Regions from separate parts of the Homo sapiens genome. Here region 2 is linked to region 1. Evidence: fine-mapped expression QTL. A gene starts in region 1. The other region holds a variant in brackets. All regions are shown on one strand. Distances are between the middles of the regions. Region 1 holds the start of ENPP3 (ectonucleotide pyrophosphatase/phosphodiesterase 3). Region 2 overlaps ENPP3 (ectonucleotide pyrophosphatase/phosphodiesterase 3).

Region 1 (2,926 bases):
TTACACAAAGTCCAGAACAAGTAACAAAGGCCCACCAAGACTCTTTCCCAGGCCTTCCTGGGCCTTGAAGCATGACAAGATAACGAAGGAATACTCACACTCCTTGTGACAAGACAGTCTTCGGGAGATTCCCAGCAGCTGCCGGGTGAGGTTTTCCTGGAGACTCTCCCCAGGGCTATCCCATGTGCAAAACCACACGTCCCTCTCCCTACTGGGGAATAACGGAGATCGGGGTGGACGCGCTCAAAGGGTAAAACCAGATTTATGCCAGGAGCCTATTATTTTCCCATCTGGGCTTGTTAAGCCATTTGCCTGGTACTGCCAGGGAAGCAATAGGGCTCGCTTATACACCTGCTTTGCATTTGGTTAAGATCAGGTTTTGAGTGGGTTTTGAGTCTGTTCTGCCCGAGTGCACCCCCTCTCTTGTCTTTGTCTGAAATCTGTCTCTGCTTGTTTGTGTATCTGTCATGGCTCACTGCAGCCTCAAACTCTGGCCTCAAGGGATCCTCACACCTCAACCTCTCCAGTAGCTGGGACTATTGGCATGCACCACCATGCCTGGCTAATTTTTGTTGTTGTTGTTATAGAGACAGAGTCTCCCTATGTTGCCCCGGCTGGTCTCAAATTCCTGGACTCAAGCAATCCTCTTCCCCCTGATTTTCAGAAATAGTGTCTAAATTCTATGATTTAGACATGTTTAGTTAGAGTAGTGATGCAGTCATTGTATTTATATTAGAATACATTCTTTTCATATTTTTTTTCTCACTGCTTTTAGGGTTGGAAGAGTTTAGTTAGTTAGAGTAGTGTTTTCCAAAGGGTGTACTGCAGTCTACAGGATTTTGATAATCTTTTCATTAGAGGAGTATTCAAGCTTTATTTAACCAAGGGGGTTGTCATAGAACTCATGTTCCATGGAACCAAACTTTGAGAATCACTGCCTTAGGGTCACTGAAACTAGAAGAGTTTAGCATCCACTATTTGCTAAAATTCTCTTTGACCAACACTATTATTAATTTAGCTTCTTTCATCACCAAACTGTAACCCCTTTTCAGCATGGAGTACACATGCTAGGATGCACCAGTCTAGATACATAAGAAAATAGTGAATTTAAATTGATTAGTGAAAATTGCTTGGATTTGGGGAGTTAGAAGTCTTGGGTATCAGTTCTAGTTCTGGCACCTAGTAAATAATTTTGAGCAATAAGTCATATATAATAACTTAATTTAAATAATCAGAGCCTTAATTTGCTCATCTAAAAACAAGAATAAAATGTTTATAAGGGATATTTTTAAGTTTGACTTGAGCTAATGTGTATAAAAACTTGTCAAATTGTGAACACTGTAAAAAGCAAGATATAATTATCACAGAACTAAGTACTTTATATTGGTTCAGCAGAGTTTCAGAATTTCTACTGTTGTCAAAGCACATGTTTTGCTATGTTGATTTTCAGCTGCTATGAAGTTTATAGAAAAGCGGAAAGTCTGAAATTTCTGTGACAAGGCTTTTTGTTCGGGGTTATTTTTAAAGAAAACAGAAGATCGGATTGCATTAAAATTTGATGATTGTGTTATTCTTGTTATATATGTCTTGACTAGTATTTAGTAAAAGTTATAAGGAAAAAAGGAGCAGTTGTCTGCAATATACTAGAAATGAACTTTAATCTTTTCACACGATTCTTATTACAACATTTTTTCCTCTCTCCAGATTGCCCAATCACTGAAGAGCTGTGATCTTCCTAAACAGTTAAAAGTCAGGCACAGCTATGTAACTCATACAGTTTCTCTTTGCCAGACTAGACTAAAGAAGGAGCACTAATTTATTCTGATAAAACAGGTCTATGCAGCTACCAGGACAATGGAATCTACGTTGACTTTAGCAACGGAACAACCTGTTAAGAAGAACACTCTTAAGAAATATAAAATAGCTTGCATTGTAAGTACAATTCTTATTTTTAGTCTTTCTAGTTTTGTGACAAATGTTAAAAGTATATGATTTCCCATTTACATTTCTTTGTGTTGCTATTAAAATGTAAACTTTTAAGTAACTGTATTCAGTATTATCCCTTATGAAAACTCTAATGCAAATTAATATCTTAAATCATATTTTACACGTAAGAAATTTGAGTAACAACAAGTTAACATTACGTTAAACTCAAAAGTTGGAATCCATGACAGAACGCTTTGTGGCGCTGATTTTTTGCATGATTATAACTACCTCTCAATCACTTTTTTATTGCATGAGTATTTTAAGACAAGAAAGTGAGAAATTAAAATCATTGTACCCTATTATTTGCTGAACCAACAATTGTATCCTATTTTACTTCACTCCTAGAGATAGTCTCTTTTGCCTATTTTCTCTCTCTTGTCATTTCATGTGGTAAGATCTGCCACCCCCCCTCACCCCCCAAATAAATTTTCCTTGATTTTATTTTCTTTTTTCTTTTTTTTAATTTTAAATTTTTTTCTTTTTCTTTTTACTCCAGAAATACGCTTATCCATTTCCTTGATTTTATTACTCTCTCTTTTCCCTTTGCCATCAAACTTTTGGGGTAAAGAGGGCTCATTTCATTGCTTCAGTTTTCTCAGCCCCCAACCATTCCTTTGTGCTCTGGCTTTGTTTCTACTGTACTGAGTCCCTGACTCAAAAGTCAGTCCTCCTCGTCCTTCATCCACTTGAGTGTTCATAACAACAATAACTTCCTGGTACTTTCTCATTCTGAATTATTCTCTCCCCTTGCTTCTACCATGACATTGACATTTTCATTTTATGACTTTTTTCCTTATCTGCATTCTTAGCCAACAATTTATCTTTATTCTCATGAAAATTACAACACAAGCTTCACTAAACCCTATCTAAGATCTCTTAAGAAATCTCATGTTCTCTAATAGTCTTTTTAATTTTAATTTTATTTTTGAGACAGGGTCTC
Region 2 (2,926 bases), 81 kb after region 1:
GTAGAGAGCAAATTTCCAAAGTTTTTACTTGGAAATAAATAGAAAAGAGAGTTTTCAAACAATATTTTAATATTTTGCTTCTGAATGAAATTTTGCAATATTTACTATAGTTTTTAAATTGAGCTGGATTAGGAGATGGAAATATTTTAAAAAACTAGATTTTTCTGAAAATAGAAAAATAACCATAGTACGAGCATTAGAAAATTTACCAAAAAACTTAGTCAAAAAACCTTTTTCTTTCTTTCATTAATGAACATTCTAGCTTTCCACACAGAATTTAAAACTTAATTACCTCCTACTAAATAATTCCATTAATATTGGGAAACCAAATATCTATGCAGTAAGAATAAAAACATTTATTTATTTATAATTAAAAAAATAGAGGCCGGGTGTGGTGGCTCATGCCTGTAATCCCAGCACTTTGGGAGGCTGAGATGGGTGGAACACTTGAGGTTAGGAGTTCCAGACTAGCCTGGCCAACATGGCAAAACCCTCTCTCCACTAAAAACACAAAAATATTAGCTGGATGTGGTGGCACATGCCTGTAGTCCCAGCTACTCGGGAGGCTGAGGCAGGAGAATCGCTTGAACCCAGGAGGCAGAGGTTGCAGTGAGCCAAGATCACGCCACTTCACTCCAGCCTGGGCGACAGAGCGAGACTCAGTCTCAAAAATAAATAAATAAATAAATAAAACCTATAGTTGTCATATGCCAGCAATTTTATTGGCATTAACTAAGATAAGGAAATGAAGTGACATCCTTAGGATATCAAACTTAATTTCCTTCTGAATCAGGACTTGTCTTGCTTTCCCCATTCCAGGTACTTACCTGGCCTCTCTTTTCTTCCCTCTACTGGGTAGAGTTGAGTGAGTGTGGCCTGGTCAGATTTGTGATTTATTTTTTAATTTGTGATTTATTTTTATTTTCTATTTAAACTGAATTAGAGTCAGTTATGAATTTTTTTAATGTTGATTTTTTAAAGACACTAAATTACTGTCCTGTTGTTAGTCGAGTCGAGTTTGTAAAAACAAACAGAAACCCTGCGGGGGGTGTGTGTGTGTGTGTGTGTGTGTGTGTGTGTGTGTGTGTGTGTGTGTGTGTGTATTTGCCCTTGGGGTGAGAGGTGAGGGTGGGGAAGAAAATGAGAGAATCTTTTAGGGCCAGCCTTTGGAAATAGGAGTCCTTTGTTCCCTTCAGAGATCAAATTTGACTCAGTATAACATTGTTGCTTTAAAAGATCTAGGTTCATTTATCGCTATTTTCCAAGTATGAAAAACAGCTACTTATAAAATTGTTAATACTGCTCAATTCAAAACAGTATTAAAATGTAGGCAAAAACTAATTAATTAAATTTGAAAATTTATTCAAATAATAAAGCTACAGCCTATGGAAGAAAATCACAAAGGTAAACATAATTATAATAATAATCTCTGAATTTACAGAATATACTAGCTTCTTTTTACCAAGTACAGTTATGTGTTGTATAACAACATTTTGGCCAACAATGAACTGCTT[G/A]TGTGATGGTGGTCCCATAAGATTATAATACTATAGTTCTACTATAACTTTTCTATGTTTACATGTGCTTAGATACACAAATCCTTACCATTGTGTTACAGCTGCCTGTGGTATTCAGTACAGTAGCATGCTGTACAGGTTTGTAGCTAGGAGCAATAGGTTAGACCACATAGCCCAGGTGCGTAGAAGGCTGTACCATCCAGGCTTGTGTAAGTGTACTCTGTGATGTTTCCACAATGATAAACTTGCATAAGAATGCATTTCTCAGAACATATTCCTGCCCTTAAGCAACGCATGACTGGATTATAATTAACTTGCCCTGCCTATTCTTTATTCATGCTTTCATATTATTTTCCTAGACATCTTCACTGGAAAACAGAAATTGATATTTTTCCCCAGTTGCAAAGATTTATTCCTAAAGCATTGAAATGCTAAAATAACATATTAACCAAACTATTCTTCAGCATATAGTCATTGATGTGTAAAGGTACACCCATGAGCTTGAAGACAAATTCATTTTTTTTTAAAATATGTACCTTTATTACTAGCCTTAGTCAGTATCTATCAGTCAGAGACTTTTGAATTCTATTTATAGATCCTGGAATTTTCCTTTCTTCTCTCGTACCCTTCTGTTTGTTCCATTATGGTTATGAATTTGAGCATGAAAATAAATATATTTATTCATTATTGATATAAAAATTTATTCTGTTGTTGATAGAAAAATATATTATTCTGTTGTTGATAAAAAAATTTACTTATAAAATTTACAGAAACTATATAAAATTAGTTAAATCTTACACTATGGTCTCATATCAATATATTGATCAGTGTGTAATAATATTTTTTCTTTATAGGAGTAAATCAAATACAAATTGTGGAGGAGGCAACCATGGTTATAACAATGAGTTTAGGAGCATGGAGGTAACTTACTGCTTTTTTTTTTAACTTTTATTTTAAGTTCAGGGGTACATGTACAGAATGTGCAGGTTTGTTACATAGGTAAACATCTGTCATGGGGGTTTGTCATACAGATTATTTCATTACTCAGATGTTAAGCCTAGTTACTGCTTTTTTAAAACAGATATTTATTGCACACCTATTTTATTATAGGCAATGTTCAAGGTTCTTGAATACATCTGTGAACAAAACAGATTAAGATCCTGCCCTCACGAAGCTTTTATTCTAAGAGGGGGATACAGACAGTAGGAATAATAAAATAATACATTATTTGTTATGTCAGAAGGTAAATGCTGTGGGAAATAAAGAAAAAGTAAAGGAGAGTAAGGGAGAAATTGGGAGTATTTTGGGGTACCCTGGGGGGCAGTAAGAAACTTTAAATAGGGTGGAAAGAGTAAGAGTCATTGAGTTGACATTGAGCAGAGATTTGAAAAAGGTAAAAGAATTCGCCTTAC

Evidence for each region. PIP is the estimated chance that this variant, and not a neighbour inherited with it, causes the effect.
Region 2: its variant is fine-mapped to the expression of ENPP3 in whole blood (INTERVAL, PIP 0.95).

The regions. Positions count from the first base shown.
Region 1 is chr6:131,635,531-131,638,456 of GRCh38, forward strand. It overlaps ENPP3 (ectonucleotide pyrophosphatase/phosphodiesterase 3), which reads left to right and starts at 1,772. Exons shown (of 25, transcript NM_005021.5): 1 at 1,772-1,932. The coding sequence starts at 1,855. RefSeq lists a silencer at 411-500.
Region 2 is chr6:131,716,304-131,719,229 of GRCh38, forward strand. It overlaps ENPP3 (ectonucleotide pyrophosphatase/phosphodiesterase 3), which reads left to right. Exons shown (of 25, transcript NM_005021.5): 16 at 2,369-2,435. Among named protein-coding and RNA genes, the nearest start is that of CTAGE9, 6.8 kb to the left of the region's middle. The variant G/A (reference allele first, on the strand shown) is at 1,515.